Linked DNA regions of Homo sapiens. The protein of the gene in region 2 purifies or fractionates together with the protein of the main gene of each other region. This does not show direct contact. Each region holds a gene or a part of one and is shown on either strand. Other genes may lie near its edges.

Region 1 (7,027 bases), on a different chromosome or scaffold from region 2:
TGCTGTGCTTGGTCAGCATCTTGGCCCTTGCCTATGCTGTAACCTGGAGTACTGCATTGGTGAGTGGCTCCATGGCCTCCCTTTCATCCACACGCATGCCCCTTGGAGTTCCCGACTGCAGCCCAGGCGTGGAGACAGCCCCTCATCCCTCAGCTGGGCTGGGCCCTGCCCCCTTCAGTCCACACCTCGCAGTACACCGCTGTCTAGGGCCATGTTTCCTTGTCTCCAGTTGTCACCAACTCCCGGGGAGTCTTTACAGAGCACTGCTTTCATCAGGTTGCCCCTTCACCTCAGAGACACTGGGCTTTGCTTTGTCAACTGATTAAAATCCTGACAGCTCAGTCAGGCTTCAGTCTAAGCCTGCTTGTCATCTTCCTCGTAATTTCTGTTATCCCCTGACAGGTTTCCTTGGTGCAGATGTCCAGGCCTTCTGTGCTCTCAGCATCCCTTGCAACTCACATTCCCTCCTGCTCCTCTCCTACCTGTTCTTTTCTAACCTTATGGCTCTACTCAGCTTCTCCTGGGCCATAACTCTGCTGTGGCTGACCCAGCATGTTTTGGGGTGCTCCGCGACATGCCTGTTACTGAGGGTTGCATATGTGAACACTCTTGTCATTTACATCCCTGTTAAGCTCTTGAAAGGTAGATGGCAGATTCTAGTGAGAAAAGTATGTGATATTTAGTGAGGAGACCTTGGTTTGAGTCCTTACACCACCCTGCCTGGAGTGTGAAGCTCTAGGCAGGCACAATGCCTGAGCCTCTCCTTGCTTCTCATCAGGCTGTTGTGAGGGTCAGATGAAGTGAAATGCCTGATTGTTCATTGTTAATATTTCTGCTAATCTTTCAGACACTGTTTGTATGCGTGTGTGGTGTGTGCATACATCTTGATGCTGCAGGGTGAATGTCGTTATTCCTGTTTCACAATGAGGAAATTGAAATCCAGAGATGTCAAAAGTGTTTTCAAGGCCATATGTTTGGAAAGCTGTGATTTAAAATTGGGTCCTTTGATCTTCAAAACCCGCTACTCTGCTGCAAGTGACAAAACCTGAATCAGTAAGACAGGTTACATGCTTTGGGGAGTGTAGAGTCTATAGTGCGGTCAGCAGACATGTTCCATAAAGGGCTAGATAGTAAACATTTAGGCTTTGCGGGCCAGACGGCCTCTGTTGCAGCCATTTGACCCTGCTGTTGTAGAGTGAAAGCAGCCATAGACAATAGTAATGGTAGGGGTGTGGCTGTGCTTCAGTAAAAATTGGAAGTGGAAAAACAGGCACTAACCAGCCTGGGCAACATAGTGAGACCCCATCTCTACAGAAAATAAAGAAGTTAGCCAGGTGTGGCACTTCGGGAGGCCAAAATGGGAGGATCACTTGAGCCCAGGAGTTCGAGACCAGCCTGGCAACATAGTGATACCCTGTCCCTACAAAACATTTTTGAAAATTAGGCGTGGTGGTGGTGCACACACCTCTAGTCTCAGCTACTTGGTGGGTGGGGGTGCTGAGGTGGGAGGATCTCTTGAGCCTGGGAGATTGAGGTTTCAGTGAGCCATGATTGGGCAATAGAGCAAGACCCTGTCTCAAAAAGAAAAACAGGCATGGGCCCTGATTTGGCCTACAGGCCATCGTTTGCCTACACCTGGTCCCACAGTGCTTTGCCCATAGTAGATGTGTTATTGAGCAAAAGAGGCTCGCTGCCCAATGTGCTAGAAGCCAATACTGTGACACCAGGATTTGGGGAAAAGAAAAGCTTTATATTGAAGGTTGACTCCCTAGGAGACCGGAGTCCAGCTCAAATCTGTCTCCCTGTGCTGGCTTTAAGGCAGTAATTTTATTAGGAAAGGTTTAGAGGGTGGATACTAGGATTAGCAGATGATTGATGGAAGGAAGGGTGATTTCTGGGAAGTCTTTGAGCATGCCCAGTTATCTCTTGATGCCACCTCACAGGTCCCATGTGCAAATTCCGGGGGGAGTTAGTATGAAACATGGCAGTGGAAATTCAGGCTGTGACATCGGCAAGCTCATTCTGCACAACTCCAGTCGGCCATCTTGGTTCCAGCTTATTTCAGCCAGTTCTTTTATCTCATAAGCGGAGGGAGTTTCTGGGTTTCAGCAAATTGTTTCTTTTCTTATCTGCCATCCTGCAAACTCAAGAACTTGTATTAGTCATTGGTTTCTTTAACTCTGTGGGGCACGGTTTCCAATGCCCATTAAATCCCTTGAATTGGACCGTCTTTCTTCTTCCTGTGCTCAGCTGCCCTTTCTGCCCTCCCTCATTTCTTCTGCAGTATGTGGGTGCCCCGGTGGCTTATGTCCAGCAGATATTTGTGAAGTCCTCAGTGTTTCCCTGGCACAAGAACCTCCTGGCAGTAGATGTATTTCGTTCACCTTTGTCCCGGGCATTCCAACTGGTGGAGGAGATCCGGAACCACGTGCTGAGAGACAGGTACCCCTCTCAGGGACCCTGGCCTCCCTGAATCCCATTCTGTACTGAAGGGAGAGTTACAGTCCTCAGTGTAACTGCAGTGAGCCAGTCAGCTCTGCAGAGATAGAACAAGCAAGAAGGATGGAGGGTGAGCTAGCCTTGAATTTCTCAGCATCCTTGTGGGTCTACGGTGGCTGCATTCCGCTTGGACCTATGCAGATGGCACACACATAGCCTTGAGTCTCATCCTTACATCTCAGATGGAGTCAGTGTCCACTGTGCTAACTCATGACCCACATGGCTTCCTGCCTGTGGGTTATGGTGTGAATGTAATGGTGGTGTCTCTGCCGACGAGAAGCAAGCTCTACCTGGGGGTACCTTCTGAAGCCCCAGCCCAAGTCGTGCTCCCCTGCCTATCAGTGGGTCCCTGGGTTATGCTGGCTTGGCATACAATGTGTGTAATTGGCAAGCTGCATCACTGCCAGGTTTTAGTTAGCTAGTGGCGTTGACAGATATTTTGGTGAACTAAATGAAGCCCCTAATTTACCCCGGTCCCTGCTCATCCACTGAACTGGCCAGGGTGTTTTAGTGGGTGGGGTTGTGCATGCTCTTATAGTACACTTGCCCGTCCTCAGAGCTGATGGGCTTTTGGGCTTCAGATGCACTTTGAAAGTCAGACAGCCACATGTTTAGGTTATTGGCCACCTGGAAGTACTTCCCCCTGCTGCCCTAGTGGTCAGGCTCTTTGGCGATACCAGAGAGCAAATATGGGGCATTGAAGAACAGACAGAGGATGTCCCCTAAGTACAGCAGGTCTGCCCTGTGGTGGCAGACACAGCAGGTGCCTTGTCCTGTCTCCTGTGCAGCTCTGGGATCAGGAGCTTGGAGGAGTTGTGTCTGCAAGTGACCGACCTGCTGCCAGGCCTTAGGAAGCTCAGGAACCTACTCCCTGAGCATGGATGCCTGCTGCTGTCCCCTGGGAACTTCTGGCAGAATGACTGGGAACGCTTCCATGCTGATCCTGACATCATTGGGACCATCCACCAGCACGAGCCTAAAACCCTGCAGACTTCAGCCACACTCAAAGGTAGCCCCAGTACAAGTTCCCTTCAGACCTGTAAAGGTGCCCATTGGTCACCGTCTTTTTGATGTGTGCTTAGGCAGATCAGGGTTTACCCTTTGTTTCCCAGGGTGGGGGTGAGAAAGGGGTCCTTGGTGGCTCTGCAGTAGCTGTCATTTCTGTGTCAGTACCTGCTGGTTTCTGCTTGCAGACTTGTTATTTGGTGTTCCTGGGAAGTACAGCGGGGTGAGCCTCTACACCAGGAAGAGGATGGTCTCCTACACCATCACCCTGGTCTTCCAGCACTACCATGCCAAGTAAGATTGACAGTACCCTGGGCTCTTGACTGGTCTGCTGGGTGACATGAGGCTTTGAGTAGTCCCTCTTCTGGTTAGAGTGTTCTGAATGCCCCCTGGAAACTTGGGAGAGTTTCCAGGCCTCCTGTTGAATGTTTACATCCCTCAGACTAGATGATGCTGTCTACCACATTTTAATGGGGATGACCTGACAGCTGGTTAAGCATAGGGGACTAAGGTAGGGCTGGCGGTCTCAGTGTCCTGGTGCCTCCTCTGGTCTCTCTTGAGCCTAGGGCAGGCATCCCCAGCTGGTTACTACTGAGCACCCTATATGGCCTGTGTCCTTCCCAGTGGGGCACTGCAGGCAGCTCCCCAATTGGCAAGGGCACTCGAGGTGCTTCTGATCGGCTCTCCTAGGCCTCTGGCAATCAAGAGTGTTGGAGGCCGGGCGCGGTGGCTCACGCCTGTAATCCCAGACTTTGGGAGGCCGAGGCAGGCGGATCATGAGGTCAGGAGATCGAGACCATCCTGGCTAACACGGTGAAACCCCGTCTCTACTAAAAATACAAAAAATTAGCCGGGCGTGGTGGTGGGCACCTGTAGTCCCAGCTACTCGGGAGGCTGAGGCAGGAGGATGGTGTGAACCCAGGAGGCGGAGCTTGCAGTGAGCCCAGATGGCGCCACTGCACTCCAGCCTGGGCGACAGCGAGACTCTTGTCTCAAAAAATAAAAAATAAAATAAATAAATAAATAAAAAAGAGAGTGTTGGAGTAGGTCCGGAAAGGGAGACAAAGAAAGGAGCAGGGGGAGCTCCTGAGAAAACTTTGTCCCCTTTGTGATTTTCCCAGTGCCCCTGGAGACTATAGAGAAGCTCAGGCACCATAGAGAAGTTCCCTTTCAACACAGGGGCAGGAGGGAGGTCCTGATGGACCCTCTGTCCGGGGATTGTCTTTGTCCCCAGAACCAAGAGCAACACTTCCATTTACCCCCACCCTGCTCCTTGACCAGGTTCCTGGGCAGCCTGCGTGCCCGCCTGATGCTTCTGCACCCCAGCCCCAACTGCAGCCTTCGGGCGGAGAGCCTGGTCCACGTGCACTTCAAGGAGGAGATTGGTGTCGCTGAGCTCATCCCCCTTGTGACCACCTACATCATCTTGTTTGCCTACATCTACTTCTCCACGCGTAGGTTCATGGCAGGGAGGCTGAGGGCTTTCTCCAAGCTAAACGGGCATTTCCATGTCACCTGCTTCCCTGGCTCTGGAGGTGGCTTGGGGTAGAGAGATAGAACACACCTGGTGGTCATCAGAGCTAGGGCTTTGTCCCCCAGCAGGGTCTTAGGAGCTTGGGTGGGGCCGGGGCTCTTCCCACTTTCAGCCCCTTCCTGGGTTAGGGTTCCTAAAAGGTGTACTGTGTCCATGACACTGGGAAGTGCTTGTGCCTGTCCCTTTCCTTTGGTGAAACCAGGAGTTTTCCCTTCCTCGACTGTCAGGGCAACCTACTCCCGGGAGCCCCAGTGGGCCGGGGGCTGGGGGAGGGGCCGCCCTGATACGCCCTCTCTGCCCTCCAGGGAAGATCGACATGGTCAAGTCCAAGTGGGGGCTGGCCCTGGCTGCCGTGGTCACAGTGCTCAGCTCGCTGCTCATGTCTGTGGGACTCTGCACACTCTTCGGCCTGACGCCCACCCTCAATGGCGGGTAGGTCCCTAGCAGGCTCCACTGGGCCACAGGGTGGGCTCAGGCCAGAGAGCCTTGCACTTCTGGGTTCTTGGCCTTCCCTGGACTTTGCTGTGACCTCACGTCTTCACATTGTTGTTTTTGACATTTAAGAGGTACATTTTCTTCCTCTTCTTTGTCTGGCTTGTATTCATACTTGTGTTTGTATATAGCATATCTAGCTATAGTGAGTGTCCATATGTACAAAAGTGCATATTTGTGGGCTGGGTGTGTATATAAGGGGTGTGTGTTGGTATGTTTGTGTATACATGAGTATGTATTGCATGTGTGTAGTCGGATTTGTGTGTCTGTGTTTATGTATTCTATATACACACACCACACACACACTGCAGCTTGATGGCTTAAGCCACTGGAGGTGTGAGATAGAGAAGAGAACATTTTTTTTTTCATGATTAGAACATTTAAATGCCTAATGAAATAGGTCATTTTAGAGGAAGCTCTTTGGAAGATATGAGCACACTGTAATTTGTCGCCTTTTTCACTGATGTTTACTTTCCCCTTGCCACTCCTCTCTGAACCTTAGTCTGGAAGCCCTTCCCTCGGCTTGTCCTCAGGCTTTGATCTTGGCTCTGGCTAGGCCCGCCTGCCTGTCTATTAATGGTTATTAATGGATTATGGATTGGCCTGTCCACCACTTTGGCCCATCAGGCTGGTCGTATGAAAAGCGACGTCGTATTTTGTTTCTGGTAGTTTCGTTGCTCTTAGATACCTGCTCCCTTTCCTGAGCTTGACACTGTTAAACACCACCCTCCCCCATACCGTCTGCCATACCCTTCACAGGGCCCTCCCTTCCTTCGGCTCCAAAGCAGAGGTCCTGCAAGGTATAACTTGGCTGGCGTTCCTCGCACATAGACTTTCTTAGGGTTTGCTGCGGGGAGTGTGGGACAGTGGGCTCAGATAGCTGGTAGAGCTTTGTGTAGGAACAGTCGTTCTTCTCCACACACAGCTTCTCAACAAAGGTGAGTGGGCCTTCAGGATGGTTTCATCTCCTTGCATTTAGCTGTGATGGGTCCACCCAGAGTTACTGGTGTGGGTCTTGGCAGCAGTCATTGTCTTTAGCCAGCAGTCTTCTCCTGGGAAGGGCCAGCAGAAGTGTGGTCTAGCAGTGGCGCTGCACAGCTCTCCCTGAGGGGCCTCTTCCAGCCCTCCTGTGCTGGATGGCTAGAGACAGGATGGCTGCTGGCCCCTCTGCAAGGCTCTGGAGCCTGCCTGAAAGCTGAGTGCTGTGTAGATGCAGGTCTTGTTGGGTGAGGTGGACAAGGGAGGGTTTCTGCCCAGCACCTGTGGGAGTCACTCAGCAGCCCCCATGACAGGCTGGAAACCCCACAGCCTTCCTGAGGGCCCCAGTCTGTTGGGAACCACCACAACACTGTCCTCACCTTCTCCTTCTCTGTCCCCAGCGAGATTTTCCCCTACCTTGTGGTGGTTATTGGGTTAGAGAATGTGTTGGTGCTCACCAAGTCTGTGGTCTCAACCCCGGTAGACCTGGAGGTGAAGCTGCGGATCGCCCAAGGTAAC
Region 2 (6,835 bases):
AGGCCGGTTAAATCTCTGCTTCGGCCTCGGAGGAGGAGGTTGTGCCGGCCCTGCTCGACTAACCGGAGAGGGCGAACCAAAAGCCATGCATGACGATACGCACCGCGGGGACTGGAGCCTCTGGCCTCACGACGGAGATTCCCTGAGAGCTGCCCGTGGTTGCCGGTACCGGCTGCTGCCGCCGGACTCCCGTAGGCGCTGCGCGGCTCCCTTTTCTTCGGGAGGCAGAGCCTATCGGTGCTTCCGTGTGCGTCATCAGGAGGCGACCGTCGGGGATGCTCACAGTTGGACAGTTTGGTCCCGAGGCATGCTGGGATACCGCGGGCCGGTCTCCATAGTAACTGGCCGACATTCGCGCAGGCCTTCGGCCTGCAGGGAAGGCCCTGATGGTTCAGTGCTTTGCAGACGGTGCCCTTCGTCCGCGGCCATCTCCCCACGGCGTGCAAGGGGAGAAGCCGGCCCCGATCCCCCCACCCCCAGCTCAGGAGAGTAACGGAGCCAGCTGTGGGTGTGAACACGCATTTATTTACACATTGTCATCGGTAGGCACATACCCAGCCCAGCCCGTTGAAGGGACAGATCTCAGGCTGTCACCCATGGAACCTGCAGACCCTTCCCTCCTCCAGAACCCTTGAAGGCGAAGCCCTGAGAGAACCAGGAATTTTAGGCTTCTGTTCAAGAGCTAAGAACTAAATTTTATGCCTTCATCTGATTTCTTTCCAAAAAGTCCATTTCATTAAGTATTCAGACTTCTTAGCTCCATCCCATTCATACTTTTTGCTCTCCTACTACCCACCCAAGATTGTTAATAATAACAATAATAATAACAACAATAATACTGCGATAATATTAATACTTCACATTTGTACGAAGCTTACAGAATGTTTTCACATATAGCATCTCATCTGAGCCTCCCAACAGTTCCGTGAGGTAGGTATTCTCACCTCCCTTTTTACAGACAGGGTAACCGAGGCTCAGAGAGGTAACGGGATTTACTCAAGGCCACACAGCTAGTTAGTGGTAAAGCTAGGAATCGATCCCAGCACCCCATATCCAAGTCCAGTGTTTCAACACCACAGCTACCTCTGTAAAGTGGAGCGACATTTCTTACCCCAGTCAGGCCTAAATGGTGGCCTGAGGAGCCAAGAGGCTGACTTCTCAGATTAGGGGAGGGAAGGGCTCAGCAGCGTCGGGGAGAGTTGGGGTACTTGGCCTTCAACTCCTGTTTGAACTGGCGATATAGGATCTTATTGTGCTGATTTTCAGCCTCCTTTTGGGGATGGAACTTCAACGCTTCTTTGAAGCCCTTATGAACCAAGAAACCTTCGTTCAGGACCTCAAAATCAAACCCCGCCACATGCAGCTCGCAGGCCTGCAGGAGGAAAGACAGGTTAGCAAAGTTTGATGACATTGACAGGCCTGAGACTGACTTCCCTAAAGCCACAGTCCAGCGTCCTCACCCCTCTGGAAGTATCCTGGATCTTCCACACCATCCACCCACCTCCTGAACTATGATCCCTCCTGCTTCATTGCCTCCTTTCCATCCAGGGCCACTCCTCATAACTCCCTGATCCCACCACCCCTCCTGCCCCATTACCCCTGCCCTCTCCCTTATGAGCACCTGGCTGATTCGGTTGAAGCCGTACTGCCGAAAGCGCTCGTCGAAGGTGGGCACCTTGCCTCCTGCCACGTAGAATGGCTCCCAGGGGTCCTGCCAAGGTACCACGTAGGCGGGCCGCAGCAAGCTCTCTTCCGGCAGGTTGACCCAGCGGGAATAGTTGGTGGGTGCCTGGCAGGGGGTGCACAACCCATAATAGAAGGGCCGCACCTCGCCAACCTGGTAGAGCTGCACCAGCTCGTTTTTGTTCATGGGCATGCGGCGGGCTCTTCGGATTTCGAAGGCAGGCACCACCAGCGCGGTGCCTCCCCACTGGTTGCTCTGATCCAGCATTTCCCGCAGGCCTCTCCACAGCCCCTCGCTGGGCACCATGTCCACATCGATCACCAGGGCATAGTTGGCCCCCTCACGAGCCAGATTCCTCAGCAGGTTATTGGGGTAGGAGACATTGGTGCCCAGCGCATAATTAATCCCGGGCTGGGCCACCCTGGCTAGCTTGTCAAAGACCTCCTGGCAGGACCGCAGCAGGGCAAACTCCCCCGGCTCCCGGGGGTCGGGCACGGCTGCCTCGTAACGCGAGGGGCACACGAGGTGCATGGCGACCCTGGCGCGCATGTCGGGGCAGTGGCTGCTCAGCGCGTAGGCCAGCACCGTGGCCAGCTGCGCCTCCTCCTTGGTGGCCGCGAACACCGACACGGACAGCGGGCCCTCCCAGCGCTCCAGCAGACCCGACAGGTGCAGCAGGTTGTCCACGCTGGCGTGCGTGGCCAGGATCACATCGTTGGGGTCCATGGTGGTCTTCAGCAGGCCCCTGTAGACGCGGTAATCGCCGCTAGCGTCCAGGACGCCTCCAGAGGCCAGCGCGGTGCGGAGCTGCGCCTTGACCTGGTCCACGGACCGTGGGGACGGGGGAAAGAACTCAAAATATTGGTCTTGCTCCTCCTGCCCGTGCAGTCCGGACAGCAGCGACAGGTAGAGCAGCTGCAGCATCGCCACCAGCATGAGCGCGGCCAGCAGCAGCTGGTAGAAGGCGCACCGGATGGCGTAGGACATCTGCATGGCTCTCGGGGCTCGGGGCGCGCAGCAACGACCACCCGGCCACAGACTACGCCAGCGGCCGCAAGCCCGGATTTACCGCAGCCTGCCGAGCGCAGCCGAGGCGAGCCGAGGCCAGCCGAGCCCCGAGCGCCGCCCCGCCCGCCGCCCGCCGCCCGCCGCCCGCCGCCCGCCACCGCCCCCAGCCCCCGGCGCGCCGGCTCGCCCCCTACGAGGGAGGAGGAGCCACGGCCCCGCCGCTCGGCCGCGCGCCGTGCAGACGCCCGCCCGCCCGGGCCCCGCCGGCTTCCCGGGACGCACTCCTCTCCCTCCCCGCCGGCGCGCGCACCCTGGACCGGGCGCGCCCTGAACGCGCGGCGCGCTCGGCCGGACTCGGAGGGAAACCGCGGCAGAGCTCGGCTGCAGCGTGGTAAAGGATGGCGCGGGCTCAGCAGAAAGGAAATCAAAACGCTCCCTTCCTTCCGCGGCTTCTTCTTTCCCTGTGTCCGAAGAGGTCTGCGTTGCGACTTACGTGGTAGTGCTTGGAAGGTGCGGAGTAGATGAGAGATAAGTGAATGTGGACAAACCTGTCACGTAGGACGAGGTGGCCGAGTGGTTAAGGCGATGGACTGCTAATCCATTGTGCTTTGCACGCGTGGGTTCGAATCCCATCCTCGTCGGCCCTGTTTTATAGAGGTTGGGGGGGAAGCATCTACATTTTCACATCCTGCCTATTTGGAGCAGCAAGCTGGAGGTGCGAGGGGTGAGGCATCTAAATTTTCACATCCTGCCTGTGGAGCAGCAAGCTGAAGAAAACTGAACTGGGGGTGAGAGTGGAATTCGATCCCAAGTCTCTCTGGTCTTTATCCACCACGCATCTCCTGCCTGCTCCTACTTCAGGTGTCTGTAGCTCTGGGCAGAGGCCAAAGGTGTTTTCTTTCCTTCTAGAAAGAGGGCCCAGGGGTTGGTGGCACGGAAAAGACTAGAACCGGGATTCTGGCCAGTGTGAAGTTGGGGGCCAACGTATGATCTGCAGGAATCAGGGAAGCCCCCCATTGGAGGCATCGCCCTCCCCGTCCGAAGTAGTGGTACTTGTCCTACTCTCCAGCACTTCTCCTAGGGCGGAGACCTTGTGTCCACATGCCCTGCTCCCCAACACACACAATCTCTTTTTTTTTTTTTTTTTTTTTTTTTGAGGCGGATTCTCGCTCTGTCGCCCAGGCTGGAGCGCAGTGGCGCGATCTCGGCTCACTGCAACCTCTGCCTTCCAGGTTCAAGCGATTCTCCTGCCTCAGCCCCGAGTAGCTGGGACTACTAGCGCATGCAGCACGCCCGGCTAATTTTTTGTATTTTTAGCAGAGACGGAGTTTCACCGTGTTAGCCAGGATGGTCTCGGATCTCCTGACCTCCTGATCCGCCCACCTCGGCCTCCCAAAGTGCTGGGATTACAGGTGTGAGCCACCGCGCCCGGCCGCACACAAACTCTTAAGCAGAAGGCTTTGAACATTCCAATATCAGGCCACTATACTCTTAATAAGTATTTGTGGATTAATTCATCTGTGGACTCTTTAGAACAGGAGAGGCCGTGGGAAGGGCAGACACTGCCACTGCTAAATCAATTACCGTATATTACTCAACTTTTTAGGCTGAGCCAGGGAGGCCCCTATAGGGCAGAGTGCTCTGAATCTTGGGATGTCAGGACAGACTGGGCAGGGCTTCAAATAAGGATAAAGTGTTTGTCCCACTATTCCACAGGCAGTAGGGTGCCAAGGTTGTTGAGTTGAAGAGTGATCAGAAAACCTTTATTTTGCAGCCCAGAGCAAAAACACACACTGAGTACCTGGTCTCTGCCAGGAACTGTGTTAGGCACGAGGGATGGGCCTTGGAGGAGACACAGGTATTGTCCTTGAGAGTTTCCACTGGTGACCTTGGCTGTAAAGAGGAGAAAAGTAAGTGCAGATCCTTTCAGCACAGGCCTTATAGACTGGAGGCTCAGAAGTCAGACATGCTGCCATGTGGATTTTCTTTGACCTCCTCAGTGTTTTATTTTTTATTTATTATTATTATTATTATTTGAGACAGAATTTTGTTCTTCTTGCTCAGGCTGGAGTGCAATGACGCGATCTTGGCTCACTGCAACCTTGCCTCCTAGGTTCAAGTGATTCTCCTGCCTCAGCCTCCTGAGTAGCTGGGATTACAGGAGTGCACCACCATGCCTGGCTAATTTTTTGTATTATTTTTTAGTAGAGATGGGGTTTCATCATGTTAGCCAGGCTGGTCTCGAACTCCTAACTTCAGGTGATCCACTCACCTTGGCCTCCCAAAGTGTTGGGATTACAGGTGTGAGCCACTGCGCCCAGCCCTATTATTATTATTATTATTTTGAGACAGAGTTTCGCTCTTGTTGCCCAGGCTGGAGTGCAATGGCTCAATCTCGGCTCACTGCAACCTCTGCCTCCTGGGTTCAAGTGATTCTCCTGCCTCAGCCTCCGGAGTAGCTGGGATTACAGGCATGTACCACCATGCCCAGCTAATTTTGTATTTTTAGTAGACTAGGGTTTCTCCATGTTAGTCAGGCTGGTCTCGAACTCCCGACCTCAGGTGATCTGCCCACCTCGGCCTCCCAAAGTGCTGGGATTACAGGAGTGAGCTACCAAGCTCAGCCAGTGTTTGTATTTTCAGTGGACAAGTTTTTTACTTCCTGGGTTAATTTTTTCCTAGGTATTTTATTCTTTTGTATCCTATTGTAAATGGAGTTGTTTTCTTAATTTCCTTTTCACGTTGTTCATTGTTAGTGTATAGAAATATAACTGAATTTTTGTTGTTGTTGTTGTTGTTTTGAGATGGAGTTTCGCCCTTTCACCCAGGCTCGAGTGAAGTGGCGCGATCTTGGCTGACTGCAACGTCTGCCCCCCGGGTTCAAGCAATTCTCCAGCTTCAACCTCCCGAGTAGCTGGGACTACAGGTGCATGCCACCACACCCGGCTAATTTTTGTATTTTTAGTAGAGACGGGGTTTTGCCATGTTGGCTAGGCTGGTTTCAAACTCCTGACCTCAGGTGATCCACCTGCCTCAGCGTCACAAAGTGGTAGGATTACAGGCATGAGCCACTGTGCCCAACCAGAATTTTGTGTGTTAACTTTTTTTTTTTTTTTTTGAGGCAGAGTCTCACTCTGTCTCCCAGGCTGGAGTGCAGTGGAGTGATCTCACCTCATTGCAACCTCCGCCTCTTAGGTTCAAGTGATTCTCCTGCCTCAGCCTCTCTAGTAGCTGGGACTACAGGCGTGCGCCACCACACCCAGTTAATTTTTATATTTTTAGTAGAGACAGGGTTTCACCATGTTGGCCAAGCTGGTCTTGAACTCTTGACCTCGAGTGATCCACCCACCTCAGCCTCCCAAAGTGCTTGGATTACGGGCACGAGCCACTGAGCCAGGCTATTGTGTGTTAATCTTGAATTCTGCAACTTTGCTGACTTTATTAGCTCTAAAAGTTTGTGTATGTGTGTACGTGTCTGTGTGTGTGTGTGTGTGTGTCTCTGTGTGTATGCATGTATTCCTTAGGATTTTCTATATATGTATATATTATGTCATCTGTGACTATGAATAGTTTTACCTCTTTTTCAGTTTGGTTAACTTTTGTTTCTTTTTCTTGCCATTTTTTTTCCCACCCCAGTGCAGAAGTTCATTTCTTGCCAAATTGCTCTAGCTAGAACTTCTAGTACAATGTTGAGGAGATGAAACGGTGAAACCACGTATCCTTCTCTTGTTCCTGATCTTTGGGGGAAGGCTTTAGGTCTTTCGCCATTAAGTATGATGTTATTTGTGGATTTTTCATAAATGCCCTTTATCAGGTGAAGGAAGTTTCCACCTATTCCTTGTTTATTCAGCATTTTTATCTTGAACGAGTGTTGGACTTTGTCACATGCTTTTTATCTTGAACGAGTGTTGGACTTTGTCACATGCTTTTTATCTTGAAAGCGTGTTGGATTTTGTCACTTGCTTTTTGTTCATAAATTGAGGTGATCACTTGGTGTTTCCTCTTCATTCTATTAATGTGGTGTATTACATTGATTGATTTTCTTTTTCTTTTTTTGAGACGTTCTTGCTCTGTTTCCCAGGCTGGAGTGCAGTGGAGCGATCTTGGCTCACGGCAACCTCTGCGTCCTGGGTTCAAGTTATT
Region 3 (7,027 bases), on a different chromosome or scaffold from region 2:
GTGAACGGGAGATTATATTTAAAAAATAAACTTTGAAATTCATAAAAAGGAAAATGTTAAAGAATGTAAAATTATACTGGTAGAAAAAAAATTTTTTTTTTTGAAGATGGAGTTTCACTCTTGTTGCCCAAGCTGGCGTGCAATGGCACGATCTCTGCTCACTGCAACCTCCACCTCCCAGGTTCAAGCAATTCTCCTGCCTCAGCCTCCCAAGTAGCTGAGATTACAGGCACGCGCCACCACGCCTGGCTAATTTTTTGTATTTTTAGTAGAAACGGGGTTTCACCATGTTGGCCAGGCTGGTCTCGAACTCCTGACCTCAAGTGATCTGCCCACCTCGGCCTCCCAAAGTGCTGGGATTACAGGCATGAGCCATTGCACCCGGCAGAAATTTTTTAAAATAGAAAAAAATAGCCCATTCATGATACATGAATTAAAGAAAATATTGGTAACATGTATGGTAACAGATTAGTAGCTGAGAACCCAAAGGCTGCCCCAGGTTGCTTCAAATCCTGGTTCTGCCATGTTCCAGCTGTGTGACCTTGGGCAAACTATCTTACCCTTTGTTTCAGTTTCCTCATCAGGAAAATGGGCTTTAATAGGATTATTGTGTGGATTGAGTTAATAAGTAAAGTGCTTAGAACAGGCCTCCAAAATAGTAAGTGTTGTATGCGTTAGCTATTATTAATACATCACAAATTTCCACTAAAGAAAATCTTCCCTAGTTTGTATATGGGATTGTCAGAAAACAAATGGAAAAATCATAGTATAAACAGCCTATATGGCTTTAAAGAATTATATAAAACACATGATCTTTCTGAAGTAGTTTTTTAAAAGAAAAAAGTTAGAACTAACTTCTCCCTTGATTTTCACTTTTTAGAGTGGTGAAACCAGAACAATATCTCACTTTCATTATACTACCTGGCCAGATTTTGGAGTCCCTGAATCACCAGCTTCATTTCTCAATTTCTTGTTTAAAGTGAGAGAATCTGGCTCCTTGAACCCTGACCATGGGCCTGCGGTGATCCACTGTAGTGCAGGCATTGGGCGCTCTGGCACCTTCTCTCTGGTAGACACTTGTCTTGTTTTGGTAAGTGCTTCTTACGATCTCATTTTAATCTCATTGATTTTTTTTTTTAAATTGCTTCCACTGGCAGTGAATAAACTCTGATGCTGTATCCCAGAACTGAGGTTTTTCAACTTAAACTTCTACTTTTGGAAAAACCTAAAAATCTCATTTCCACCGTTGCAACTGCCTCTTATTCATGACTGGTAGGAATGTATCCATGATGATTTTAGAGATCCCTAAGAAGGTGTTTTTCTTCCTGGTAGCTTTATATTACAGAAATAATAGGTCTCTCCCCCACATTTTTTCAAATATAAATTCATATGTAATATTGAATTCCTTCCTCCTCAGACAGATACTTTATCTCATTTTTTAAATTTAAAAACTAGGGATAATGATAGACATACTTCACAGGGTTCCTGTGAGAATTCAATGAATTAATACATTAAGGAGACTTAGAAGAGTCCCTGATGTTTTCTGAGCATTCCATAAATGTCAGTATTACTGTTACTCCCCTGAGGTTCCTGTCTGTGCCCCCAACGGCTAATTCTTTCTCCACCAGTCATTCCCAGTCCCAGCCTGTATACAGCCTAGATCTTTTCTTCTCTTTTTAGGACCTTTATTTTTTCGTTACTTGGGATACATGAAACTTCTGTTTGCCCTTATACTTCTCCTAACTTCTGTCTTTACTTCTTCCTCTTATTATAGGATCAAACCCAACAATAATACTGTCTGCTTTGATTTCCATGCCATCTACTCCTTCAGTAGTCCCTGCAGCTTAGTTTCTGCTTTCTGAGCGTGTTCTAAGATTATCAATAACCTAAGCAGTTTAGCTTGTCCTGGTATTCAGTCTGGTGGGGATTTTGTTTTTGTCTTTGTTTAGACAGAGTCTTGCCCTGTCACCCAGGCTGGAGTACAATGGTGCAATCACTGCTCACTGCAGCCTCAACCTCCTGGACTCAAGTGATCCTCCCACCTCAGCCTCCCAAGTAGCTGCCTGCACCACCACACCCAACTAGTTTTTGCTTTTTTATTTTTAGTAGAGACAAGGCCTCACTATCTTGGCCAGGCTAGTCTCAAATTCCTGGGCTCAAGTGATCTTCTTGCCTCAGCCTGCCAAAATGCTGGGATTACAGGTTTGAGCCACCACGCTTGACACAAGACTGGTGTTCTTAACCTTGACTTTAAGGCCCTGTATTAGTCTCTTCGATGTTTCTGTAAAACGTAGCTATGCTTCATTGCAGTTATGTCAGCATTCTTATGCTTTCCACCATGACTGCCAGCACAAAGTAGATTCCCAGGTGAATTAATATGATGATGCTTTTCATTGTAAACACACACACAAGGAGCTTGATCAATGGAGTGATACTCTTGGAAGGAGTGATACTCTTGGAAGAACATTTCAGACGTTGCATCTCTAATGAAAGCTAGGAATTGGGAACGGTTGAGTCTTAACTAAACATCTGTATTACTTTACCACTCTGCGTATATATAGTATACTTCAATCAAAATTAGATTGTTACATCAAAGTTTTAAAACTCTGGTGATTATTTTGTTAATGACACCTGTTCCCTGCCAACTATAACTTCAACAATTTTTTTTCTTTTATTTTTGGTGAGCCTGGGTGTGGGGATTCTAACACTAGGTCAGTAGTCCAGAGCAGTGCTGTAGCTCAGCAGTGTTATCGTGGATCTGGGCTTTTGCTGTCTTTTCCACCGTCTTTCTTCATTTTATTTTATTATTCTATTTATTTATTTATTTATTTATTTGAGACGAAGTTTCGCTCTGTTGCCAGGGTGGAGTGCAGTGGTGCAATCTCAGCTCACTGCAACCTCCGCCTCCCGGGTTCAAGAGATTCTCCTGCCTCAGCCTCCCGAGTAGCTGGGACTACAAGTGCGTACCACCATGCCCAGCTAATTTTTGTATTTTTAGTAGAGACGGGGTTTTACCATGTTGTCCAGGAAGGTCTCAATCTCTTGACCTCATAATCTGCCCACCTTGGCCTCCCAAAGTGCTGGGATTACAGGTGTGACCCACCACATTTTTATTTATTTATTTATTTATTTATTTATTTATTTATTTATTTATTTATTTTTGAGATGGAGTCTCGCTCTGTCGCCCAGGCTGGAGTATAGTGGCACTATCTGACCTCACTGCAACCGCCGCCTCCTGGGTTCAGGCGATTCTCCAGCCTCAGCCTCCAATGTAGCTGGGATTACAGACATGCGCCGCCACACCCAGCTAATTTTTGTATTTTTAGTAGAGATGGCATTTCGCGATGTTGGCCAGGCTGGTCTCTAGCTCCTGGCCTCAAGTGATTTGGCCTCCCAAAGTGTTGGGATTACAGGCATGAGCCATCATGCCTGGCCTCTTTTCCACCATTGTTAGATGGGTGCTGTATATCCAGACATCGTGTCTGTAGTGCAGACATGAAGGAGGCGGAAGGGGAATGAGCAGAAAGGTTGACTCCTGCCATGACTTTTAAAAAAAAAAATAGTCCTTATACTAGCCAGAACTGGTTATAAATCCTTCCTTTAACCAATGACTGGCCAGAAGGAATGAGATTACTATGATTGGTTTGGAATCAGTTGTGAATCAGCTAAAGAATCAAAGTCCTCCAACTACTTGAGGGGTTGAGATGTGGGGAGGGATGAGTAGGCTGGGATAGTTGTTGTGTACATAACAGTTATAGCTGGAGGGTTAAATTATCGTTGTTCTTTCAGAGGAGAAAATGCATAGCAAAAATCTTAGCAATGATCTTGCATTGATTCTGTTTCCTGGGTTCCAATAACAAGACTTGTCTCATTTTTTGCCTTTCTTGCAGATGGAAAAAGGAGATGATATTAACATAAAACAAGTGTTACTGAACATGAGAAAATACCGAATGGGTCTTATTCAGACCCCAGATCAACTGAGATTCTCATACATGGCTATAATAGAAGGAGCAAAATGTATAAAGGGAGATTCTAGTATACAGGTAAACTTCATACAGGTTTTAAATCATATCTATTTGTTAAATACACATAGCATCAAATAACTGCACTCCACTTGAGCCCTTGTCTTTGTTTCAAAGAGTGTATTTGAATTTTTGTGGTAAATCCAGCTGGCTGTCTTAAAATTGTAAAATTTTAGCTAGCTTCCTCATATATACTCAGCCTCAGGTTAAATCCTGTGTGTTACTTAAAAGCCCTTGTAGAAACAAGATTTCATTAAAGAAACTGAATTTTTCATTTTGGGGGTGGTTAATCTTTTAATTATTAAAGTAACTGGAAACTTGAGATACTTTTGCCTTCATTAAACACTGATACTTGGTTTATGTGATATTTGACTTTATAACAACAAGCAACTTGAATATTTATGGCAGATATAATGAAATTCCAGCAAAATGTTATATTCTTCTGGTTGGTGGCTTTATTCTCATTAAGCTATTTTTACTGCATATTTGTAGAACCTAAGTTCAAAGACTGATCAGAAACTTGTGTTATGTACTAAGTTAAAATGTAAAATAGAAACAACCACAGACTCCATTTTTTGTCTGGTTTAATCACATAGTATTGGACATAAGCAGATACTGTAAGTTGATGCATAATATAAGAAGATCGACTGTCTTTTCATTATGTTTCTCATGTGTGAACATATTTACTAGCACTTTCATTTCTCTGATTACTAGCCAATATAAGAATGTAAATTAGATCGGACCATTGGTGTCAGAATAAAGGTTTATTTAAAAAGATTTTTTCCAAATCTTTAAATAGCATTAAAATATTCTTAATGCACAGAAACATTAGGGCACTCAGAGCCAAAATACGCAATGTTTGGGAAACTCAGCCCATTAGAACATGTCCTGCTTCAGACGCCAGACTTTGGGAACACTGGATTTGCCAGGGTCACTTTGGCAGTGATCAGTGATTTAGGTGAAGTAAAAGTTATTTCAGATGTTTAAGATTAGGAAAATTTCCCTTTCTAATCACAGTGAGCTTTCACCAACTTAAATCTGGAGTTCAAAAAGAAAAGTAGTTCAATCAGATTTCCCCATGCCTTCACAGCCTGCATGCCGCCTTCCCTGCCTGCTTCCTGGCTGTGATGAGACGGGTAACTGGGAGGGAAATGTATTGTCCTTTGGATTGTGTCTTTCCTACCACTGCTTTTTTTTTTTTTAAGTTTTGTGTCTTTAGTTTTAGAATACATACTTTATCTGAGGGTGGATCTTTTTTTATCACAGAGATGAGTTTTTCTGGACACACTTTTTTGTGGAGTCTTTGACAGTGCAGTTTGTGGCTAGGAAGGATTTTTTTTCTGTTAATTTATCTGGTGTGATATTGTCCTCAGGCTCTCAATTCTAAGGCATTTTCTGCCCCTATTCCAGATAGGATATTGGAAACATCTTTATCCTTCAGGTACTCAGGATCAGAAAAGCATGCTGCCCATTCCAAGGGGTTAATTTCTGCAGAAATGGTCTTGGCATTCTGAGAATCTTTTTTAATTGGTGCATTTAGACCATCGGCATATGAAGTGATTACTGATAAAGTTGGATTAATAAATACATACCACACATGCTACTGGTTTTTTTTTCTTTTTTTGAGACGCAGTTTTGCTCTTGTTGCCCAGACTGGAGTGCAATGGCACAATCTCGGTTCACTGCAGCCTCTGCCTCCCAGGTTCAAGTGGTTCTCCCCACTCAGCCTTCCGAGTAGTTGGGATTACAGGTGCCTGCCACCACTCCTGGCTAATTTTGCATTTTTAGTAGAGATGGGGTTTCACAGTGTTGACCAGGCTGGTCTCGAACTCCTGACCTCAAGTGATCGCCCACCTCGGCGTCCCAAAGTGCTGAGATTACAGGCGTGAGCCACCGCACCCAGCCCAAAGTGATTGTATCTTAAGTCTGTAAATATGTGTAATTATAATCTTAAAGCATGTATTCATTTACAGAAAACTTCCAATGACTTTGACATTCCTATAGACATATAGGCTATTTGCAATTGCCTTTCAGCACAAGGTCAGGCATAAATACTTAAGCTGGTTGCTGGTATTACCACATATTTATTAGCATATTCCCAGTATTGATGATGACAGTTAACCCCCCAGAGTAAATATCTAGTTTGGCAATTCAGAACTAATGTTGTAAGATCTCTAGCTGGTAATTTGATATTACTAATAAAGTATTAAATGTAAATGATAAACTTTTAACAAATTACAGAGGATTTGAAGTTTAATTGCATTGCTTAAAGCTTTCTTCAGTGAGAGAAATGGGTAGAGCTAGGGTTCTAGGCATTGTGTGGGGGGCATGGCTCCTAGTGGCAGTGACTCATGGGTTGGTGCAACGTGAGCACAGAATTAGAAAGAAAGATGAAACAGTACCAGGCCTCAAAATGAGAGCTCCTTTGAGGTTATAGTTTAGTGAAATGTAATTCCTTGGCTTCACCAGTCAGCATTAATGACCTGAGGCAGGTGACTCAGGAGTGCTGGCTCCCTTGTGTGTCACAGGGAGGACAGAGACGAGTGAGTTTGCTGAACCTATATAGGCATGAGTGAGTTTGCTGAACATAGGCACGAGTGAGTCTGCTGATCATAGCCATGAATGAGTCTGTCGAACATAGCCATGAGTGAGTTTGCTGAACATAGCCATGGCAAAATGACATTGTTGGGTTTGTGGGGTTTTTTTAATTCACTAGCATTAAATATCTCTTTTATTTCTCTCTCTGCCGAGTGCTTTCCTTGTTGACGTATTCTGAATTTGTTGCATATTCTGGGAAGTGGTCCAGTGAGACTTGATTTTTGGTGTCATCTTATTTGTTGACATTGTTGAGTGTTGTCCAGCTATAAGGCCAAGTTACATAACTAGGTCTCAGTCAAGAGTGGAAACTTCAAAAATTGACCAGTGTAAATTCTGGAGACAATTTAACATTTTTGTGGGGTACTTTGTTGAACACACATCTTTATAAGGGGTCACAGCATAGTCAA
Region 4 (6,423 bases), on a different chromosome or scaffold from region 2:
AGAAAGACAAGATGAATTGTGGCAAGAGTGCAGAGGGGGAAAGAAGGAGGTTTCCCAGTTCCGATGGCTGACTAATGGGAGGAGGAGATGGAGAAAGCACAGTAAACAGACTGGACTAAAAGTTGCTTGTGTGCACGGGGGGAGCTGTGGGGTCAGGATGGGAGTGATTCCAGTGTCCAGATTGTTGTGAGAGCTGCTGTGTGGGAGATTCCTGAATAAGCCAGACCTTGGAGTGAGAGGTCTGTGAGGGGCCAAGGCACTGGAAAGAACCGCCGGCTTCATGCATGGCAGGGGTCACACACAAATCTGGGAAGGCACACACTGGAGCTCATGATGCTGAAAGGCCTTGAGTAGTCACACTCTGAAGATACTGCAGCTTCTCCTTAGCAGGGAGAAAGCCACAGGAAGTCCTCTGACCACAGACAAGAGGCCCACGGAGCCCTGGGGCAGGAGGTCGCCTCCTACACCAGGCTCTGTCACTTCTGACCCACCCAGGGCCCAGAACAGCTACAGAGAACAGAGAATTTTACAAAGAGTTTGATTTTATTGATATTTAAATATATTAAATATTTCACTGAAATACATGGTTCACCATCCTCCCCCACCCCCACAGTGGTTACATTATAAAACCAAAGCCCACGGCCTCCCACCTCCTGACTCCTCTACCAACTGGGTGAGGAAAGGGACAATGGTAGCCCAGGGGAAGGGCATGGCTGGCACTGTGGTACGGGGATCCAGGGTGTGGACAGGCCCTCCCACCTGGCAAGAAGCAGAGACAAGCCACCCAAGGCTGAGGTCTTCCCACTCTGATCTACTTATACCCTCACCCCTACCCCATGGCACCAAGTAGTCTCTTCCTATCCCTTCCTATCCAGGGATATGGCTGGGGACAGGGGAGTAGATTTTCTGTCTGGAAAACAAGTCTTTTCCCCTCCTTCTGCCATGACTAATGAAGTACCTGATGGCCCATTTGGTTGATGCATGAAGATGCCCAAGGGAGGCATTACCCAGAAACCAGGCCTCCACAGGGAGCTGGTGTCAGAAGGGGCATGAGGAGGGGCAAGTGCACTGCCTGCCCCTTCCACTCCCAAACCTAGCAACTCTGGAAACCCTTCTCCTCTGCCTCTCTAGTCATTTCCAAGACAAAGTGATCTTCAAGCAAAATTCAGGCTAGTGCCTTTGGCTTAAATAGGTACAGACAGAGAAACTGAGGCACCAACAAATTCAGGCCAGAGTCAAGGAGGTTGCAGGGAAAGGGGTAAAAGGAAGGCAAAGACAGGAAGGGAATCTAGAGTTCAACCTCCTAACCCTTCTGCCAGCCCTCAAGGCTTCACAAGGGACTGGGGAGCTAGAAACATGCTAGACTCAGGCTGAAGGCTGGGGAAAGCCAAGTTTAAGGTTCCTCTTCCCCACCCCGTAGTACCAGTATCCAGGTCCTCAGAGGGATTCCATGCTACCCCAGCCCCAAAGCATACCATGTCCCAGGACACTATCTGGGGAAGCCAGGAAATTCCTCAGCCTCTGTCCATCAAACCCCAGACAGTTCAAGTGCTGGCATGGAGCACTGGGGCTTAAGCAAGCGCTTGGGTCCCTGCCACAGACAGGGAGAGTCATGCTGCACACATGGCCCCCGAACGGCACTTAGGGATTTGGCACAAAAAGGACTCCTCTCCCTCCTTTTGCTACCACACCCCATCCCACTCCTGTGCAACCTGGGCATCTCTCTACATCCCCTGAAGTAGGAAACCCTGCTTTATTCCCAGAAGACAGAGGCCCACAGGAGAGAGGCAACCTGGGGTGGAGAGCTGAGGAGCAGGAGCACAAGGACTCACATAGACCTGGAAAACAGATATGCACACAAAGACCAACATGCACACACAGTTACACAAACACACGGGCCCTCCCCAACACCAGAGACTTGGGAGGGCAGGTTTGGGATCAGGGTCACCTTTCTCCATGCCCTGACCCTTTTCTATTTGGCAACAGAAGAGGAAGAGATGCTCCATGCCCCCTTGTCAGCAGACAGCAAGAGAGCACTGGGGCAGAGTGACCTGATCTGGACCCCGACGGGGTCCTCAGATCAGAGTCTGGCACTGCCCCAGCCCTGGCCGGCCTGCTCTTTGGCACCTGCAGGTGAACTTCCAGCTCCTGACCTGACATCCCCACACACAGGCTTGCTCTCTGAGCATTTTTCACAGTACCAGTGAGGCCAGACACCCCGTTCCCTGGAGCGTGCAGGAACTGGGGCTAAATCTAAGCTGTCAGAGGTCCCTTTGTTCCCCTTTGGGGACAGATCATGGGACTAAGATTTGGCACATGGAAACATTCTCCTGAAATATGGCCAAAGCTGGCTCCCCAGAGCTTCTCCCTCCTCTGCTCTGTGCATAGGAGGGACACCTGGCTGGGGTGGGGAAGTGCCCAGGACCAGTGCTGGGGATGCAGGTATTGCAAAGGCAAGCATGGAATAGGCACTCCTCATGCCTGTCTTTGTACAAAATATTGTACAAAATATTCCCAGGAAAAAAGAGGGAAAAGAAGGGCTCAGCCCTGAACCTGCTGCCCAGACAGACAGGGAAGGGTAGGCATGGCAAGCTGCCATTTTAATCCCTCAGGCAAGAGGCCTCCCTCTGCTTCTGCTACTGACCCCTCCCCTGCTCCCAAAGGCTGGAAGATTGGAGAGGGAACAGCCCTACCCCAAGTAAGAAAGAAAGTCACTTGCATAATCCTCTCGGTAGGTAGCCCCTTGTTTTCCAGCTTGAGGGCAGACGAGCATGATCCAAGCACAGCCTGCTGGGATGTTCCCTTTTGTGGTTAGCAGGGTCTGGAGGCTCAGTGCCCCCTGCCACAGCTCCACCCAGTGAGCACAGAGTCCACTCAATGCCCACCTTGGTCCCTTCAGCTGAATTTGTGGCTGGGCCCTGTTAACTGCTGGGGCCCCCATTGAGGAAGTAGGTGGTCATCTCCCCCTTGCCCTTCACCTTGACCACCCCTCGACACTCCAGCTGGTAGCCCTTGGCAGCTAGAACCTGGTACAGGTCCGTGGTCACCTGGGGGAGTGGGAGGGGAGCCCGCTTAGCCTGGAATCCTTCCTGCTGCATTTGCAGGGGCCCAGGGGTTCTCTAGTCAGGCTAGCTCCCTTCCCCCAGTCCCTGCCCCACCATACACAGAACACTAGCCACCCTACCCCTGTCCTAGCAGACTGCAGAGACACCTGTGGAAGCCCTCCGGGCCCATGTTCCTCCCAGCCCCTGCTCATATCCCCCTCACCTGGATTCGGTCGGGGACCCCCGTGCTGTCCATACGACTAGAGACATTCACTGTGTTCCCCCAGATGTCATACTGTGGCTTCCGAGCCCCGATGACACCTGCCACGACTGGGCCCATGTTCAGCCCTGAGGTGGAGAGAACAGCAAGAGACTAGTGGATGCTCCAGGGTAAACCCAGGGAGTCATCCCACCTCCTGGCACTGGTAGAAGGACCCAGAGAAAAAAATGGAAAAAGGACAAGTCTCCTGGTTGTAAAGAACAATCTAGTTCAAGACGAGCCTGGCCAACATGGTGAAACCCTATCTTTACAAAAAAAAAATACAAAAATTAGCTGGACAATGGTGGTACATGCCTGTAGTCCCAGCTACTTAGGAGGCTGAGGTGGGAGAATAGATTGATTGAGCCTGGGATTTGAGGCTACAGTGAGCTGTGATTGTGCCACGGCACTCTAGCCTGGTACAGAGCAAATCCCCATCTCAAAAAAAAAAAAAAAAAAAAACCCAAAAAACAAATAAAAATACCCAAAGACCTGAGCACCTCAGTTTAGGAGCTCCCCTGAGTCAAGACAGCCATGCTATAACAGTAATCTCCTGAATGCCTATTCCATGTCAACCACTCTAGTAAGCATTTTACCTGGCTTCATCCTTTCTTTTCTTTTTTTTTTTTTTTGAGATGGAGTCTTGCTCTGTTGCCCAGGATGGAGTGCAGTGGCACAATCTCAGCTCACTGCAACCTCTGCCTCCCAGGTTCAAGAGATTCTCCTGCCTCAGCCTCCCGAGTAGCTGGGATTACAGACATGTACCACCACACCCAACTAATTTTTGTTTTTTTTTTTTTTTTGGGGGGGACAGAGTCTCGCTCTGTCACCCAGGCTGGAGTGCAGTGGCACCATCTCGGCTCACTGCAAGCTCCGCCTCCCGGGTTCACACCATTCTCCTGCCTCAGCCTCCCGAGTAGCTGGGACTATAGGCGCCCACCACCACACCCGGCTAATTTTTTGTATTTTTAGTAGAGACGGAATTTCACCGTGTTAGTCAGGATGGTCTTGATCTCTTGACCTCGTGATCCGCCTGCCTCGGACTCCCAAAGTGCTGGGATTACAGGCGTGAGCCACTGCGCCCGGCCTAATTTTTTTTTTTTTTTTTTTTTCAGTAGAAAAGGGGTTTCACTATGTTGGTCAGGCTGGTCTTGAACTCCCGACCTCATGATCTGCCCACCTCGGCTTCCCAAAGTGCTGGGATTACAGGCATGATCCACCGCGCCCGGCATGGCTTCATCCTTTCAACACCTCTAAAAGGTAGGTATTATTATCCCCATTTTATAGATAAGGTAACTGAAGCTTAGAGAAGTTAGAAGACTTCTCAAATAAGCCAGTAAATGGAGCAGCCAGAATTCAAACCAAATAGTCCATCTCTAGTAGCCATGCTATTAACCACTCCCATCCACCAGTTCATTTGAGAGGAAATACCTCTTATTGGACTGGTCACAGATAAGGACAGAAGTATTCAAGTTTATATAAACCTGATTTTTAATCCCAGCTCTGCCACTTACTAGTTGTTTGACCTTGGGCAAGTTATTTAATCTCTCTGAGAGTCAGTCTCTATCCAATGAAAGGCGATAATAGTATCAGGATTAAAATATGCTCAAAAATTTATAGGACAGTGCCTAATGATCTCTGTTCTTAATATCAGACTTGATATAGGAGGTCAGAGGGAAGAAAACCCCACAGGAGCCCTGATGGGAAATCTGTGATCCCATCCCCAGCCTATAATCCCAGCTTCACCTGGAAAAAGTCCTGGGAAAACCCGCCAAGCAACAAAGCCCTCTTACCAATCTTCATCTGGAAATTGTTGAAGGAGTGCTCATTGATGTGCTTCATCTGCTCCATGAGCCGCATGGCGTAGTCAGCCAGGGCAGTGATGTGGGAGCGGCCCACCTGATCGTAGGTGCTGGCGTTCAGCCCTGAGGCAGCCATGTAGGTGCTACCAATCGTCTTGATCTTTTCCAGCTGCCGGAACCGCTCCTCGCTGATAATCTGAACAACACAAGGAGACCTGGCTGTCAAGGCAAAGACCCCAGACCCAGCCCTGCCCCAACACTCATTTCTTGCCACGCCTTGGCTGCCTTCCCCACTTCCCTGTCTCAAGAGCCCCCTTCCAGCTGCTGCTATCAGTGTAAGACTGAGGAGCTGGGAAAACAGGCAGCCTAGGACTCCAGGCAGGACTTGGGCATACAGCTTCAGAAGGTCCCTCCAGTAGCTCACTCACAGAACACAGACCCACAAGTGCAATATTAAGCAATTTCTCCAATCCTTACCTTTTGGGATACTGAGTCCCAGAGTGAGCAAGTGACTTCCCTCCAGAACAGTGAACAGCCCATTCCTGATCTGGATGTTCAGGACACTACCTCACATTTTGCTTCAATTTTCTCTATTCAGAGGACCATCTTGCTTGGTTGGTCTCATGAGGTTCTGTCCACAGACTATTGCCTTCTTCTTCAGTGACATCCACCTGGTACCTATCCTATCCCCCTACAGATCAAGTCCTCCCCTGCTCCCCAACAGTGATGACCCTGCCCCACTAGGGCTGACCCCCTTGCTGCCTCTGACACCTTCATGGGTTCTTGCCTCTGCCTCCACTGTGCATACCCTTACCCCTGATGACTCTGGGTCCCATCAAATCTCTCTCTCTCTTCCCAGTTCCACTCACCCATTCCAATCCCTGGTCTCCAAGTACCCCCCACTCTCTGCCACCACCAGCCAACTGGAAAAGTACCTCATCAAAGTCAGCGATGATCTCGTTGAGCAGCCGCAGGCACTCGACACCCTCATTGTTTGCCTCCAGCTCCACATAGAACTCAGAGAAGTTGGCAATGGAGGCAAACATAACAGCCACACACTCACACGACTGATAGTAGAGTTCATCATTGCGGCGCTCCCGGGCCAGGAAGTGGGCCGCCACGTCCTTGGGCAGAATGTTATGCAGCAGCCTCCGGTTGTATGCCTGTAGCTCCTCCATCTCCTCCTTCTCCCCTGTTGCCTGTGGACACCACACCCATCACCCATTGCCCGACATTCACAAGGGGTAGGTGTGGTGGCCAAGGCTTGGAAGTGCGGATAAGAGGGAATCACATAGAGAAAGAAAGGCCCAGACAGATG

What was found.
Region 1: the proteins of B4GAT1 (region 2) and SCAP purify together in Homo sapiens (co-immunoprecipitation; 3 studies listed by BioGRID and IntAct, with this or other methods). This does not show direct contact.
Region 3: the proteins of B4GAT1 (region 2) and PTPN2 purify together in Homo sapiens (co-immunoprecipitation; 3 studies listed by BioGRID and IntAct, with this or other methods). This does not show direct contact.
Region 4: the proteins of B4GAT1 (region 2) and ADCY6 purify together in Homo sapiens (co-immunoprecipitation; 3 studies listed by BioGRID and IntAct, with this or other methods). This does not show direct contact.

What each region holds. Positions count from the first base shown.
Region 1 is NC_000003.12:47,423,928-47,430,954, reverse strand, and holds part of SCAP (sterol regulatory element-binding protein cleavage-activating protein), read left to right. Parts: intron 1-2,284; coding exon 2,285-2,442; intron 2,443-3,287; coding exon 3,288-3,508; intron 3,509-3,692; coding exon 3,693-3,798; intron 3,799-4,785; coding exon 4,786-4,958; intron 4,959-5,343; coding exon 5,344-5,470; intron 5,471-6,909; coding exon 6,910-7,022; intron 7,023-7,027. UniProt on the Homo sapiens protein: Escort protein required for cholesterol as well as lipid homeostasis.
Region 2 is NC_000011.10:66,344,869-66,351,703, forward strand, and holds B4GAT1 (beta-1,4-glucuronyltransferase 1), read right to left. Parts: upstream 2,762-6,835; 5' UTR 2,678-2,761; coding exon 1,622-2,677; intron 1,373-1,621; coding exon 1,181-1,372; 3' UTR 506-1,180; downstream 1-505. UniProt on the Homo sapiens protein: Beta-1,4-glucuronyltransferase involved in O-mannosylation of alpha-dystroglycan (DAG1).
Region 3 is NC_000018.10:12,811,219-12,818,245, reverse strand, and holds part of PTPN2 (tyrosine-protein phosphatase non-receptor type 2), read left to right. Parts: intron 1-880; coding exon 881-1,090; intron 1,091-3,890; coding exon 3,891-4,043; intron 4,044-7,027. UniProt on the Homo sapiens protein: Non-receptor type tyrosine-specific phosphatase that dephosphorylates receptor protein tyrosine kinases including INSR, EGFR, CSF1R, PDGFR.
Region 4 is NC_000012.12:48,765,670-48,772,092, forward strand, and holds the end of ADCY6 (adenylate cyclase type 6), read right to left. Parts: intron 6,369-6,423; exon of another isoform or gene 6,306-6,368; intron 6,305-6,305; coding exon 6,041-6,304; intron 5,791-6,040; exon of another isoform or gene 5,302-5,790; coding exon 5,097-5,301; exon of another isoform or gene 4,958-5,096; intron 4,564-4,957; exon of another isoform or gene 4,419-4,563; intron 3,393-4,418; coding exon 3,268-3,392; intron 3,048-3,267; coding exon 2,922-3,047; 3' UTR 525-2,921; downstream 1-524. UniProt on the Homo sapiens protein: Catalyzes the formation of the signaling molecule cAMP downstream of G protein-coupled receptors. Functions in signaling cascades downstream of beta-adrenergic receptors in the heart and in vascular smooth muscle cells.